Regions from separate parts of the Homo sapiens genome. Here region 1 is linked to region 2. A link means that fine-mapping ties the variant in region 2 to the expression of a gene that starts in the linked region. Tissue or cell type: whole blood. Region 2 holds a variant in brackets; the other region holds the start of a gene. All regions are shown on one strand. Distances are between the middles of the regions.

Evidence for each region.
Region 1: it holds the start of RALGDS, and the variant in region 2 is fine-mapped to the expression of RALGDS in whole blood (INTERVAL, PIP 0.93).

Annotation. Positions count from the first base shown.
Region 1 is chr9:133,117,181-133,125,505 of GRCh38, reverse strand. RALGDS (ral guanine nucleotide dissociation stimulator) reads left to right here and starts at 4,266. Exons shown (of 18, transcript NM_006266.4): 1 at 4,266-4,534. The coding sequence starts at 4,352. RefSeq lists a silencer at 3,977-4,686 and an enhancer at 4,666-5,362.
Region 2 is chr9:133,087,821-133,096,145 of GRCh38, reverse strand. LOC124902343 (small nucleolar RNA U13) reads right to left here and starts at 3,094; the gene lies at 2,995-3,094. RefSeq lists an enhancer at 5,157-5,658. The variant T/C (reference allele first, on the strand shown) is at 3,519.

The sequences.
Region 1 (8,325 bases), 29 kb before region 2:
CAGCTCAACCTCCCAAAGTGCTGGAATTACAGGCGTGAGCCACTGCGTCTGGCCATTTTTCTTCTTATAACTTTTATTATGGATAATTCCAAATAGACACAAAAATAGAGAAAATGGCATAAAGACCCCCAGCTTTCACGACCATCGGTGCAGGGCCACTCTTGTTCACCTCTCACTGCCCCACTCCCTGCCCGCCCCTGGAGATGTTTACATGAATCCCAGGCATGTGATGCCATCCACAGATAGCCCAAGATGTAACTCTACTAGTGACGGCAACACCATTCTCACACCTAAAAAGATGTCTAATGTCATCCAATATGTAGCAGTGTTCAGACAATCCACATGTCTTATAGTTGTTTTTTTTAAACAGTTGTCTTGCTGACATCATGATCCAAAATCCACACATTGCATTTGTTAGACGTCTCTGACCCTTCTTTTAGTCTAGTTTCCCCTTTCTTTTTCCTCTGAAATGTATTTGTTGAAGAAACTGGGTTGTTTGTCCCATAGAGGTTCCCACAGCCTGGATTTGTGGATTGCACCCTTGTGGTGTGTTGAACATGTTTCTCTGTCCCCTGTAATCCCACAAATGGCAGTTATATGCAGAGGCCTGCCTTGATTTAGGTTTGGGTTTTGAGGAGAACACTGTGAGTGGTGCTGCGTTCCTCCACTGGTGACACACGCTGTCCCAGGATGGCCTTGCCCTTGGTTAGGGTGTCCCCACAGCTTACAGGAGGCCTCAGGAGAGGGTCTTGCATGCAGGAGGCGTCCCATGAATGCCAACCCCAGTTGCTAACAGTGTGAGGCAGAGTCAGGCCCGCCCGATCTGAGGGCATTGGGCAACACATCCTGTGCAGGGAACTTTATCTGTGCCTTCATTAGGGGGGCATGTGTATCTGTGTTTCTGTCTCTATGTGTGTGTATCTGTGTCTATGTCTCTATATCTGTGTGTGTGTGTCTGTGTCTATCTCAAACTTGTTTTTTCCCTTTTTGTGGAGAATGGGGTCTTGCTATGTTGCCCAGGCTGGTCTCCAATTTCTGGGCTCAAGAAATCCTGCCTCTGCCTCCCTAAGCTCTGGGTTACAGGCATGAGCCACCACACCCAGCCTCTGTGTCTGTCTCTATGTCTCTGAGTAGGTATGTCTCTGTCTGTGTGTCTCTATCTCTGCGTGTGTGTCTCTGTTCCAATGTCTCTGTGTGTGTGTCTCCGTCTCTAAATGTGTGTGCCTGTGTCTGTCTCTGTGCGTCTGTGTCTCTGTGTCTGTCTCTATGTGTGTGTGTGTGTGCCTGTGTCTCTGTCTCTATGTGTCTCTGTGGGTCTGTGTGTGTGTCTGTGTCTCTGTCTCTATGTATGTGTCTCTGTGTGTGTGTGTCTGTGTCTCTGTCTCTATGTGTGTGTCTGTGTGTGCATCTCTGTGTATCTTTGTGTCTGTGTGTGTGTGTGTCTGTGTCTCTGTCTCTCTGTGTGTCTCTGTGTGTGCATCTCTGTGTATCTTTGTGTCTCTGTGTGTGTGTGTGTGTCTGTGTCTCTGTCTCTATGTGTGTGTCTCTGTGTGTGCATCTCTGTGTATCTTTGTGTCTCTGTGTGTGTGTGTGTGTCTGTGTCTCTGTCTCTATGTGTGTGTCTCTGTGTGCATCTCTGTGTATCTTTGTGTGTCTGTGTGTGTGTGTGTGTGTCTGTGTCTCTGTCTCTCTGTGTGTGTCTCTGTGTGTGCATCTCTGTGTATCTTTGTGTCTCTGTGTGTGTGTGTGTGTCTGTGTCTCTGTCTCTATGTGTGTGTCTCTGTGTGTGCATCTCTGTGTATCTTTGTGTCTGTCTGTGTGTGTGTGTCTCATGTACAGCCAGAGCAGTGATCAGGCTTCCCAGAAGTTGGGAGGTGAGTCCCAAAGGTAGGGGAACAAGGCAGGAAGAGGAACTTTGTAAAAACAGACACCGGCCAGAGGGACTGGCTAAGTAACGCCCTCCCCCGCCCTGGCTCCTGTAGATGATATAGTCAGATGGGAGGGAGCCAGGCCAGCCGCGTTGGGGGGTTTAGTGTGATGAATTCTTTACTCTTCACCACTCCAGCCTCCTTGGGGCCACCCCTCGCCCCAGCACCCAGGACCTTCAAGGCCAGAATAGTGGTGATTCCTCTATGTCCTCATGAGTCACTTGTCCTTCTGGGCTATAAAACGGGTGGGCGCTTGTTCCCAGGCCCATCACTCAGCGAAGGAGATAAAGAGAGCAGAGGAGATAAAGTCAGTGGCAGGCAGCTTCTGGACTTTCAGTTTCCGGAGGCATTGGGAGCTTGGCCCCAGAAGAAAGGGATGGGAGGAGGAGCTTAGGGCCGAGGGCAGTGTCTCGGTCACCTCTTTGTGGCCCTGTGGGGACCTCCTGCCTCGAAATACGCCTCACCCACATTACCCTCCCTGGCCAAACGGCTTGGAGGCTTCCTAAACAGCCTCTAGGGATCTCCATCCCAAATCAAATCTACCCATCTTGCTTCTTAAAAAAAAAACAAAAACAGGCTGGGCGTAGTGCTCCTGCCTGTAATCCCAGCTCTTTGGGAGGCCGAGGCGAGCGGTTCACTTGAGGTCAGGAGTTCAAGATCAGCCTGGCCAACATGGTGAAACCCTGTCTCTACGAAAAATACAGAACTAGCTGGGCATGGTGGCAGGTGCCTATAATCCCAGCTCCTCGAGAGGCTGAGGCAGGAAAATCACTTGACCCCAAGAGGCGGAGGCCTTAGTGAGCCGAGATCACACCACTGCACTCCAGCCTGGGTGACAGTGAGACTGTCTCAAAAACAGCATTTATCACATAGAGCTGATTATTAAAATACTGATTTTAGAAATTAGAAATTCAGAGAAGTAAAATGAAAACCAGTAGAGCTTCCACCCAGCTGCAACTTACCACCATAATTTTTGTGAAGTAGGCCCTTCTAGTCGTGTGCACATGGGGGTCTTGTTCTGAACGGATGAACTGCCGCCTCACTCCAGTCACAGTGGAAGTGTTTCGTGGGTGTCTGAGGATTGGCACTTGGGAAGGGGGCAAGATGTGCTCGTGGAATGTGCTGTCTGGTCCCGCCCTCTCAGTTTACAGATGGAGAAACTGAGGCCCAATAGTACGGACCAGACCTGGGGAGGTTGGCATGGCCAGGGCTGCTGGCAGCAATTGCTGGCCTCCATGAAGACTGAAGGCTGAGGCCAGGGCAGGCCCAGTGATGAGTGAGGCATGAGGAAGGGTCCCATTCATTCATCCATTCTCCTGGCCCTGCTGTTAAGCCCCAGGCTGTCTTCCTTCCTCACTGGCTTCCAGAAAGAGTAGTTGAGGATGTCCCTGTCCCTGCTTCCCCTTCAGCCCCAGCAGCCCCACTTCCACCCTGAGACCAGGGATGTCCAAGCCACAAGCAGCCCCAGCTGACAGGCCACGCAGCCATGTGCTCTGCCCAGCGTTGTCACTCTTGATGCCTTCCTCCTTGTCAGATGCCTCTCAGCCCCAACCTTGGTGCCTTCCGCTCTCCCCCACCTCCCTGGCTTCCCCTCCTCTGAGGGTGTCTGTAAGGGGATAGTGTGGGGCTTTGCCCCAAAAAGGTAGGGCCCCACTCTCTGACCCTTTCCCCCACTGCACACACAGCCCCACACTCAGGATTTCCAATTGCACTGACAGGGTCACTGAACACATGGTCAGCCTCTCCAAACTCCGCCTGAGCCTGTAGTCAGGTGCAGGTGCTCAGTGCTGAGTGCTTCATGTCCATTACGTAATGTCATCCTCCCCGCAACTGTTTGAGGAAGTCATTTTCACTACCCAGATTTTCCAGATGAAGAAACAGTGAGGCTCAGAGGGGTTAAGCAACTTGTGGAAGGCCACAGAGTTGGGGAGAGGCTTTGCTGGAATTCGGGGTAGCTGACTCCAGGGCGGCTTCCCCACACATGATCAGCACGTACACATTTCAGCCCTACGCAACACACGCACTGCAGCAGCGTGACACGCAAACGGTGCCTAACCGGGGTACCCAAGGCCCCACGACACACGTGACAGCCGGTCCTCCGGGAGACCCAGCCAACGCGCACCCCTCGACCTCCCCGGCCCCGCCCTCTTTGTTCAGACCCCGCCCCTCCAGGCTCCCGGTCCCGCCCCGGGTCTGACCTCGGCGAGGGCGGGGCCGCGGGCGCGCGCACGCACGCGTCCCTCGGACTCTCCGGTTCCGCCCCTCCCCGGCCCCACCCTCTTCCCCTCCGGCCCCGCCCCCCAGCCTGACATCAGCAGGGCCGGGCCGCGGGCTCACAGCGGTGGCAAAGCCCAGCCGCGCGGGCCGCGCCGCCGCCCCCGCCGCGCGCCGGGCCGGCCCCGCGCCCGCGCTGCGAGCCTTCCATGGTGCAGCGCATGTGGGCCGAGGCGGCCGGGCCTGCTGGCGGCGCCGAGCCGCTGTTTCCGGGCTCCCGGCGGAGCCGCAGCGTGTGGGACGCCGTGCGCCTGGAGGTGGGCGTCCCCGACAGCTGCCCGGTGGTGCTGCACAGCTTCACGCAGCTAGACCCCGACCTGCCGCGCCCGGAGGTGGGTGAGCTGGGGCGGTCGGGCGGGGGGTGCGTCGGAGCCTCCCCACCCGCGGCAGAGCTGGGCAGGTCGGGGCGAGCCCCGGACGGGGCCGGGCGATCCCAGCGGGCCGCCTCCCTCCTCTCTCCTCCATAGGTGGGGGTCGGGGCCTTCTGCAGAAATCAGCCAGCAGGGTGGGCAGTGGGGGCTGCCGCCGCGCCCCGTCCAACAGTAGGGACCACGGCTGGGGTTTTGCGCCCCTCAATACCGTTCCAGGGCCTGCTGTCACCAAGGCCGCTGCAGCCCAGGTGGACCTTTTTCTGCGGCACTGTCCCTGTTTACATCGGTGGCCTGTGCCTTATTTCACTCAGTTCCCACCCAGGGCCCGCAGCGCGTCGTTAGCCTTTACGATGCAGGTGTGGAACAAGTGGTCGGGAAGGCCAAATCCTAGAATCCTCAGAGGTGATGAGACCATAGGGGCCTTCCAGACAGACCCTACTTGGGGCAGATGTGGATCTGGTGACCAGGGACATCGGGGCTGCTCAGAGCGGGGTGGGGGGGGGGTCGGGGGATGGGGTGGAGCAGCAGGCCTCCAACACGTGGGACCAGATGTCCTGGTGGTGAGGGGAGGAGGGTGGCCCAGGCCCAGGGCGGGCAAGACTTGTTTCTGCTTAACTGGAAAGAGTGCCAACACCCTGAATCGGTAAGGACTGGGTAGGATTCAGAGAAGGGAGTGGTGTACCTGTGATGGATGGAGGGGAGGGTGACTAGGTGAGGGCGGGGGCTTGTTTCTCGTGTGCCCTGGGTCTCTGGGTGGTGCCATCTGCCTCCCACCTGACTGCTGCTGACTACACAGCAGAGGGAGTGGAATCCAGAGATGCCCCCCTCGCCCTGCTCTGCCTGGGCACAGGGCCTGCACAGAGGCCATTCCTGGATCGGGGGCTCAGGGCCCATCAGAGCTTTGGCTGGGCTGCAGCCTTCACAGTGAACCTCCTGAGTCCCCGTGCGGCATCGTGTTGCCTTGCTGCGTCTCCAGTCGCTTCATGGCTTTAGACTGTGGCGCGTTGTGATTGCTGGCGATTGTTAGCCTGAGTCTCGTGCCTCTTGGTGTCCCGGTACCTAGACAGGGCCTGGATGCGACTTGTTTCTCCGCCCAGTGTTGGGCAGAGCTCTTGGTGGGGGAACACCACACGCCTGAGAGACCCTTTCCTCCTGAGCTTGGCAGATGGCCGGACCAGACGTGTTCCCTCAACCCTCATCTATCCAGGGCTCTGGTCCTCATTGGCGGCTGGAGAGGGACCCCTGGGAGGGTGGGGGTGGGAGGCTGACACCAGCCCAGCGCTCATCTGGCTTTCATTACCTCTGGCAGCAGCTCGGGCTTTGTGTGCTGGGAGGGTCCGGCGGAGCGCTCACAGTGGCCGTGCAGGTTCCCTCTCTCCGTCCCTGAGGAACTGAGGGAGAGGCAGAGCTGAGCCCCACCCCTGCCTGGGGGTCTTGTCTTCCCTCTCTCTGGCCCTGGCGCTCCTTGCCCAGCCTCAGCACTGAGATCCAGACCTCGACTGCTATTTAGAAATCAAAGGGGAAGCTTCTGGCTGGGTCAGGAAAACCAGGATCCTGGCAGGAGAGGAGGCCACTGCCGGAAACTGAACACAATGACCATTTACCAAGGGCCCAAGGGAGGGGGCGGGGAAGTCCCTGTCCCTCCTGCCAACACCCCCCGTCCTGGGGCTGGTTTCCTGGTGTCTATGTGGCCTGCCAGAGCTGACGCTGCGCACTTGGTCCCTGTCCTCTCTGGAAACCACCAGACAGTTTCTGCCTTCCCCCGCATCCCTGTTTCCCTACCTAGCTTCCACCCGGTGCTTCCCTCTGGGCTGCCAGATCTCCTCACATCTGGGCTTCCGCTTATCTTCCCGATTCTAAGCCAAGCCACCAATGACCCAGCTTGGCCTGCACAGTTCTTGCTTTCTGGAGGTGACCTGGTCCGTGCCCCCATCTCTGGACAGGCTGTTGCTTTGGCCAGACAAAAAGTGCAGGTTGTGGGCCACCCCCTCACTTCATCTGCCTTAGACCAACCCTACAGAGTAGGTGCCAACACCACCTTCTAGGAAGCTAGGGGGTCAGAGAAGGGAAGTCTCTGACCTAAACACCCGTGCAGCCAGCAAGGGCCGCAGCCAGGATTTAAGCATGGGCTGTGTTCTCTGTGGCACCTACTGTGTGCAGGAGCCACCAGGAGTCAGAGGAAGCCCAGGCAGCCCAGAAGCCCTGAGGTCAGGTGAGCAGTAGGGAAGCTTATGGCTCAGAGGAAGGCAAAAGTGCTTTGGGCCACAGGACGCTGGGGAGAGCTACCTGGAGGAAGCAAGCCCAGAACTGGACCCCACAGGTTTAAGATAACAGCTAATAAGAGCCAGCAGGTTTTGGGGAGGTCCTTGGCTAAGTAATTTGCATCATCTCCTTTTGGGGTCAAGACTGTTAAGAGCTCACTTGACAGATAAAGTCACTGAGGCAACAGAGGTGAATTAGATTGCACAGAGTGACCAAGCTGGTCAGTGGCAGGGCCAGGATTCTGACCCAAGGCCTGAGGGCAGTTGCAGGTGGGCTGGAGTGAAGAGGGCTTCTCTGTATTCACAGGGAGCATCTCCCTTCAGCCTCCCGCGTCTTCCCACTGTTTGATCTCTTGATCACACTGTGTGCAGGTCTTCGGTTTAATCCCCAGGGCTCATGAGCACTTTGACACTGAAGACCCCAAGGCAAAGGGCCTGTCCCTGTGTGGGTGTGTGTCCCTGCATGCATGTGTACAGACTGTGGTCTTCCAGGAGAGCTTCCTGGGTGACTCTGAAGGGGCAGCCCCCAGGACCCTCAGGTTCCCCTCTTGCTCTACTCGGGAGGGTCCCCCAGAAGAGGGGGACCAGGCTGGCTGGTCCTGGGTCTTTGTTCCTTCTCCAGGCGGGGGATGCTCAGGCATGCTGGCCTGTTTCCCGGGAGGCTCAGGAATGGCCCTGGGAGATATCAAGCTGCTCGTTGCCAGAGCTGGGGTCTGATTCTTAACCTGGAAATTGGGCATTTCCAGGACCTGTCTGCGTTGCCAATGAGAAAAGAGTGGGGAGATTTATCACTGGCCCTCTGCAGGCAGGCTCTGAACGAGCCAGTGGAGCGGTTTCAGGAAGCTGCACCCAGGCAGTCAAGGACTGGTTCCCAAGAGCTGCTGGTTGGCCGCCCAGATGGCTCCCATGGCGTGGTGCCACCATGCTGTGGCCACCCAGTCCCAGGGTTGGACTTCCAGCCTTGCAGGCCCAGAATCACTGTGTTCCCAGATATACAGCAACAGCAGAGCAGTGTTCCCCATTTGATTGTTAAGGGGCAGACACTGATGCATGCAGCCTCATGCAGGACAAGCTGAGCTTTGAGCAGACCCAATTCTCCCAGTTCCGCACACCTTGGCTGCCCACGGGCGGGGGAGGCAGTGGGATGGCAGCCCAACAGTGGCTTGGCGGGCGGGGCAGGACACCTGCGTTGGAGGGTTTTGGCGTTTTCCTCCATGGGGAAGCTTGCATGCTTTGGCAGCCTCCCCTGTAGTCATTCCTGGAGACTTTTGTCCATCTCAACCGAGGGGCAGGGAGCCTGGGCTCTGGAGAGAAGAGAGCTATGCTGGGATGCCAGCTCAGCCCCCTAGCAGATGTAGACGTGCTCCTGAGCCTCAGTTTCCTCATCTGTAAAATGGACATGATGCCAGCTCTCCTGTTAGGGTTCTGGTGAGGACCCTCGAGTTAGACAAGAGACCTGAGGAGCAGCCTGCACAGCACTTGGCACAGTGG
Region 2 (8,325 bases):
GGATAAACTCAGATCCATACCCAAATTTATTAGTCAAATTGTCAAAAGACAGAAAATCTTGAAAGCAGCAAGAAGAGATTCATCATATACAAGAGATCCTCAGGATTAACAGCTGATTTCTCATCAGAAACCATGGAGTCTAGAAGGTAATAGGATGACATATTTAAAGTGCTGAAAGAAGGCTGAGCATGGTGGCTCACACCTGTAATCCCAGCACTTTGGGAGGCCGTGGTGGACAGATCATCTGAAGTCAGGAGTTCGAGACCAAACTGGCCAACATGGTGAAACCTTGTCTCTACTAAAAATACAAAAATTAGCCAGGCATGGTGGCACATACCTATAGTCCCAACTATTTGGAGGCTGAGCCAGGAGAATCGCTTGAACCCGGGAGACGGAGGTTGCAGTGAGCCAAGATCGCACCACTGCCCTCCAGCCTGAGCGACAGAGCAAGACTCCGTCTCAAAAAATATTCTCAAAATAAAGTGCTGAAAGAAGAAGCAAAACATCCTTTAAGGATGAAGGAGAAATTAAGACATTCTCAGATAAAAGTTAAGGGAGTTTTATTAGTAGACCTGCCCTACAATAAATGGTAAAGGGAGTCCTTCCAGCTAAAATAAACACTAGACAGTAACTTGAAGCCATATGAAAAACTAAAGAACACTGGTAGAGATAACTAACAGGTAGTTAGCAAAGCCAGTGTTATTTCACTTTGGATTTGTGTAACTCATCCTTTTTTCTTATGATTTAAAGGTAAAATTCATAAAGCTATAAATCCACATTAATGGAAACAATGTATAAAGATATAATCTGTGACTGACAGAGGGAAGATGTGTAATAGCAGTGTATACTACTTAAATTCAATTGGTATTATTGAAACTAGATTGTTATATGTTTAAGATGTTACTTGTAATACCAAAAGTAACCAGTAAGAAAATAACTAAAAAGTATATAGGAAAGCAAAGAAAGGATCAAAATTGTACAAAAGTAAATCCGTAAAAAGCAGTAGTGGAGGAATTGAGGAATGAAAATCATAAGACATACAGAAAACAAACAGCTAAATGGCAGAAGTAAAGGTTTTCTCATTAATTACTATAAATACAAATGGGTTAAGTTCTCCAATTAAAAAGCAGAGATTGGGCCAGATGCAGTGGCTTACACCTGTAATCCCAGCACTTTGGGAGGCTGAGGTTGGAGATGGCTTGAGCCCCGGAGTTTGAGACCAGCATGGGCAACACGGTGAGATTCTATCTCTACAGAAAAATTTTAAAATTAGCCAGGCATGGTGATGTGCATCTGTGGTCCCAGCTCTCAAGAGGCTGATGTGGGAAGATCGCTTAAGCCCGGGAGGTCAAGGCTGTAGTGAGCTGTGATCCTGCCAATGCACTCCAGCCTGGACAACAGAGCAAGAGCAAGACCCTGTCTCAGGAAAAAAAAAAAAAAAAAAAAAAAAAAAAAGATGGGCAGAATGGATTTTTTTAGAACTTTGTCTATCTATATGCTGTATAGACTTTTTTTTTTTTGAGATGGTGTTTCACTCTTCACCCACGCTGGAGTGAAGTGGCACGATCTTGGCTCACTGCCACTTGACCCCTGGGCAAGTCTCCCAAGTAGCTGGGATTATAGGCACCCACTATCACACCCAGCTAATTTTGTATTTTTAGTAGAGACAGGGTTTTGCCACGTTGGCCAGGCTGGTCTCAAACTCCTGACCTCAGGTGACCTGTCCGCCTTGGCCTCCCAAAGTGCTAGGATTACAGGTGTGAGCCACTATGCCCAGCCTGTAGAGACAAATTTTATTTTATTTTGAGGTGGAATCTCACTCTGTCGCTTAGGCTGGAGTGCAGTGATGCAATCTCAGCTCACTGCAAACTCCACCTCCCAGGTTCAAGCAATTGTCCTGCCTCAGCCTCCTGAGTAGCTGGGATTACAGGTGTCTACCACCACACCTGGCTAATTTTTTTGTGTGTTTTTGGTAGAGACAGGGTTTTACCATATTGGCCAGGCTGGTTTTGAACTCCTGACCTCAAGTGACCCACCCACTTTGGCCTCCCAAAGTGCTAGGATTACAGGCGTGAGCTACTGCACCCGGCTGAGACAAATTTTGAATACAAAGATACAAAAAAGTTGAAAGTAAAATGTTGGAAAAAGTTATTCCATGAAAATAGTATATTTTAACAATGGCTATAGTATTATCAGACAAAATAGATTTTAAGTCAAAACCGTAACAAGACAAGGTCAGTATACACTGACAAAAGCTGCAACTTCTCAAGATACAACAATTGTATCCATACACACACTTAAAACACCCAAAATGTATGAAGCAAAAATTGATATAATTAAATGAGAAATACACAATTGGAGATTTCAATACCTCATTTCCAATAATGGATAAGAACAACCAAACAGAAGATCTATAAGGAAAGAGGATTTGAGCAACTCTATAAACCAATTAGACTGAGCAGACATATACACAACACACAAACCAGCAACAACAGACTACACATTATTGTCAAGTGTACATGGAACATTTTCCAGGATAGACCATATGTTAGGCCATAAAGTAAGTCTTAATTTTTTTTTTTAAGACGGAGTTTTGCTCTTGTTGCCCAGGCTGGAGTGCAATGGTGCAGTCTTGGCTCACTGCAACTTCCACCTCCCAGGTTCAAGTGCTTCTCCTGCCTCAGCCTCCCGAGTAGGTGGGATTACAGCACCCGCCACCACACCCGGCTAATTTTTGTATTTTTAGTAGAGATGGAGTTTTACCATGTTAAGCAGGTTGGTCTTGAACTCCTGACCTCAGGTGATCTCCCTGCCTCGGCTTCCCAAAGTGCTGGGATTACAGGCATGAGCCACTGCACCCAGCAATAAATTTTTAAAACGAAATTATACAAAGTATCATTCCAATTACAATAGGATAAAATTATAAATCCATAGCAGAAGAAAAACTGGAACACTCATGAATATGTGGAAGTTAACGCACTCTCTTCTTTTTCACGTCAGATGGGTAACGTGCCGACGTAAGGGTTTGAGGGTGACACATCTCACGCATGTGCATGAACACCCAATCATCATTGTTCATCAACTACAAAAGGATCTTAACACTCTTCCCCTCCCCGACTCCAGACGGAGTCTTGCTCCATCGCCCAGGCTGGGGTGCCGTGGCACGATCTCAGCTCACTGCAACCTCCACCTCCAAGGTTCAAGCAATTCTCCTGTCTCAGCCTCCTGAGTAGCTAGGATTACAGGTGTGCACCACCACAGCTGGTTAATTTTTATATATTTTTTAATAGAGATGGGGTTTCACCATGTTGGCCAGCCTGGTCTTGAACTCCTGACCTCATGATCCACCTGCCTCAGCCTCCCAAAGTGCTGGGATTACAGGCGTGAGCCACCGCGCCCAGGCTTAACACACTCTTAAACAACCAATGGGTCTAAAAGGAAGTCACAAGGGAAATTAGAAGACACCTTGAGACAAAACAAAAACACAACATACCAAAACTTACAGCATGCGGTGAAAT[T/C]GAAAGCAGTGCTTGGGGGAAATTTATAGCTGTAAACGACTACATTAAAAAAGCAGAAAGATCTCAAATCAATAATTTATCCGCACACATTTAGGAATTAGAAAAAGAGCGAACTAAACCCAAAGCTAGCAGAATGAAGGAAATAATAAAGATTACAGCAGAGATAAACAAAATAGAGAATAGAAAAATAGAGAAAATCAGCAAAACCAAAAACTGGTTATTTCTAAAGAACAAAATTGACAATACTTTAGATGAACAAAGAAGAGACAAGACTCAAATTACTAAAATTTGGAATGAAAGTGGGAACATTCCTACCAACTTTACACAAATAAAAAGGATGAGAAGATAATGCTTTATAAGAGAATGCACCATTGCATGCCAGCAACATACAGTGGAATATTATTCAGTCATAAAAAGGCCAGGTGCAATGGCTCATGCCTGTAATCCCAGCACTTTGGGAGGCCAAGGTGGGTGGATCACTTGAGGTCAGAAGTTCAAGACCAGTCTGACCAACATGGTAAAACCCCATCTCTACTAAAAATACAAAATTAGCCGGGTATGGTGATGAGCACCTGTAATCCCAGCTACTTGGGAGGCCGAGGCAGGAGTATTGCTTAAACCCGGGAGGCAGAGGTTGCATTGAGCCGGGATTGTGCCACTACACTCCAGCCTGGGCAACAAGAGGGAAACTCCGCTTCTTAAAAAAAAAAAAAAAAGGTATGGTATGCCCACACATGCTACAACATGGATGAACTTTGAAAACATTACAATTCCACTTATGAGAAATATCTCCAAAAGGCAAATTCATGGAGACAGAAAGGATAGAGGCTACCAGGGGTTAGAGGGAGGGGAAATGAGGAGTTAGCTAATGGATATAGAGCTTCTATTTGGGGTGATGAAAAAATTATGGAAATAGAGAGTGGTGATGGTTGCCCAACAGTGAATCGAACTAATGTCACTCAATTCTACTCTTAAAAACAGTTAAATTAGCATCAGTTTTGTTATATAGGTTTTACCACAGTTAAAAAAAAAATAGTATCTGTAAGGACCATTTCCTAGCCCAGGTTGGTGGCTGCCTTTCTACAGCTTTAGGGGAAGAGGAGCATTTTCTGCTTGTCTTGCTGAGGTTTCTGTTGACCACCAATTAGGAACTTGTGGATTTCAAGGTCTAACTCTGGAATTTAGTCAGCACTAAGAAAAATTATAAACAGATAAAATGTACAATATGGAAAGTGGGGGGGAAAAGCTAAAGGAAGAGTGTTAGCCAGTGCACGGGCAGGACTTTGCCCCCTCAGTCCCTTCTAGAGGCCCGTGGTCCACCCTTTTTCTTAGACGGGAATCTTTGTTCCTAACCATAGATTTCCATTGCCTGTGCGTTTTCTCTCTGGGGAAAGACTTGTGATGCTGTGTTAGGGTTACAGTGGGCCTCATTCCATAAGCATTCCTGCCCACAGTGCCCACGTCACAAGGCCATGGTGAGGTCAGGCTCATCAAGTGCTCAGTGCAGTGCCTGGGCTTGGACCCGGAAGAGGTGGGGGTGGTCCCGACTCTGCCCCAACAACTCTGCCAGAGCCATTGGGCACCCCCAAGGGGCCCACCACCCAGCACCCTTGGCATCCTCTGCTTTCTACCCAGCACCCTTGGCATCCTCTGGCGTCTACCCGTGAACCAGGATGCCAGCATTCCTACAACTCCTTGTGTGATTGATGTCATCCAGAAACACCTTGGAAAGCCCCATCCCCTGTGCCCTGCACACTGTGGCCACTCGTCCTGCTGGAGCCTCATGAATGGCCAGTGAGTGCTGATTGCCAGGATAAGGGTGCTGATTCCTGCCAGCAAAAGACCTCCATACTCTCCCCCGATGGCCAAGGTGAAGCACAGGTCCGTGTGGTGCTGAGGTCCAGTCTCAGGTGATCACCAATTTACAGAGTCAGTCGTGTTGTTACTGACCCATCCTAAAGGGGTAGCTGGGCCCTGAGCCTTTAGAGCTCGCAGCCCCCTGAGGTGACTGTATTCTTTGTCCACAGTCTAGGATTTAGTTATGTCCCGGTTGGGCGTAGGTGTGTTAAACACGCAACACAGGAGTTGGGGTGGGGGGAAGAGGAAGGCCACTGAGACTGAGGATCCACAAGCACAGAAGGCCACAGCCTTACAATGAAAGTGCTGAAACATGTCCCCTGTGACAGTAAACATGCGCTGGCCCGAGCTCACCCCAGTGCTCTTCCAGGCTTCCTGGAACTGGGAGCCAGCAGGACCCCAGATGGCCTCCAGCCTGTCAGTATTTTCAACTTCATCATCTGGAGTCTGTAATGGCAAGAGCCAGATTGCAGGTGACTCTGAGCTGTCTCCTCCCTCTCGACAGCTGCAGGCATCACCCAGACACACTGCAGGGCTCACCTGTGCCATGGAGGCTTTTAAAGTAGATTTTCTGTTGCTTATAACAGAATACCTAAAACCGGGTAATTTATAAAGAAAAGGAATTTCTCACAGTTATGAAGGCTGAGAAGTCCGAGGTTGAGGTGTTATAGGATGGAAGGTCCTGACTGAGTTGTCCAGGTTCTTGGTGTATTGAACAAAGAAGTGAACAAAACTCACAAAGTAACAAAAGAATGAAACAATGACAGACAAAACAGGCCAGTCGCAGTGGCTCACGCCCGTAATCCCAGCACTTTGGGAGGCCGAGGTACCTGAGACCAGCCTTGCCAACATGGTGAAACCCCGTCTCTACTAAAAATACAAAAAAATTAGCTGGGCGTGGTGGCCGGTACCTGTAATCCCAGCTACTTGGGAGGCAGAGGCAGGAGAATCGCTTGAACCCAGGAGGCAGAGTTTGGAGTGAGCCCAGACTGTGCCATTGCACTCTAGCCTGGGCAATGAGAGTGAAACTCCACCAAAAAAAAAAAAAAAAAAAAAGACAAAGCAACAAGAAAACAGCTTACCAAAGGCACAGATTGATTGAAGCGAACGTGCAACCCACAGGGTGGGAGCGGGCCCAAGCAAACGGCTCAAGGACCTCCCAATTGCAATGCTTCTCAGGGTTTTTATAAAGAACACCCCAGATGCCCTTTAGAGGCCTCCAATTGGTTACACCCTATGAAGGATTAGCCTGGGACCAATCAGAGGCTGAAGTGGAGGATTGGCCCAGGGTCAATCAGAGGTTGAAGTGGAAGCTCCTGACTTGTTATCACAGCAGTGAGGATGTGGCCTGTGTGCTCCCCAATCCTGCCTAGAACTGGCTGCACCTGCTGTTCTCTGGCTTATGAGAACGGGCTGCACCTGCTGTTCTCTGGCTTATGTGAACGGGCTGTACCTGCTGTTCCTTTGCTTATGCCCCAACCCTTGGCTTCCCTAATTCCCTCTCCTCCTGCCTCAGAGAGGCTGCAGCAGGTGAAGGCCTTCTTGCTGGTGGGGACTCTGGTGTCCCGAGACGGTACTGGGCATCACGTGGTGAGGATGCTGAGCCTGCTCACATGCTAGCTCAAGTCTCTCTTCCTCTTACAAAGCCACCAGTTACCCTCCCATGATAACCCACTAACCCATGAATCCATGAATGGATGAATCCATCTACGGGGACAGGGCCTCATGATCCAGTCACCTCTTAAAGGCAGCACCTCTCAATACTGCCACATTGGGGATTAAATTTCAGCATGAGTTTTGGCGGGGACAAGCATTCAAACCGAAGCAGAGGGATGGCGGGTGCAGCCCAGAGGTAGAACACGCTTGGATCCCCACAGCCCATCCCTTCTGACGTGGCTTGGCCATCCAGGGATGTGATTTTCTGAATGACAGACATGACTGTGCTTTCTCTCAACAAGAGACGGGTGCCAGTCCCAAGGGTTGGGAAGAAGCACTGGGGTCCCAGGGGTTTCTCCCACAGTGCTGGAGGCGCCTGAGAGCTGACTCCACAGGTAGAAACACAATAATCCCTGTGGGTACCAGTGTGGCCAAGGAAGGGACACATCATTGTATCCTCGGGCTTCCGTTGCCCAAGAGAACAGGGACAGTCACTGGGAGAGGCCCACATTGCCGGGCAGCTCCATCTCACTCAGTCTTTGACAGGGAGTCCCCTTTTTACACCAGAGACCCCTTGACCAACCCAGGAAGCCCAGGGTGGCCAAAGTGGTCACAGCCAGCCAGGGTGTCCCCTGCTTCTCCAGGGGACAGGGTTCGTCCCGGCTCAGCTCTGCTGCATGAGGCCACAGGACTTGTCGGCCCTGAGCCTTATCCTCCCACCTGTAGGCTGGAGGGGCAGAGAGAGTGGCTAGCTGGTCCTTGGGTGCTGCTGCCCTCCACCGCGGAGCCCCCCAGGCAAAGTTGCTCAGGATTCCAGAATTTTCTCTCATCTAAGCCCCACCCTGCCCCACAGTGCCTGTTTAGAAGGTAGGTGAGGAGTGGGGAAGAAGACCCCCAACGTTGTTCCAAGCACTGGCTTTGGAGTCAGGGACCTGGGTTCAAATCCTTGCTCTGAGTGACCTTGGGCACGTGATGCCCTGTCAGGGCCTCATTTTCCTCTAAATATCTATAAACGTCTAAAAGGAGGGTGTACACCATACCCACCTCACAAGGCCATGGTGAGGTCAGGCTGGTCAAGTGCTCAGTGATGTGCCTGGGCTTAGACCCAGCAGAGGCAGGAGTACTCCTGACTCTGCCTTCTGCCCTCTGCCCCTGCCCCGTCAACTCTGCCAGAGCCATTGGGCACCCCCCAGAGGCCCACCACCCAGCGCCTACTGCCCAGCACCCTCCCCATCCTCTGCTTCCAACCTTCTGGTGTGATGTGTTATTCTTTCTTCCACTTGCATCCGGCTGG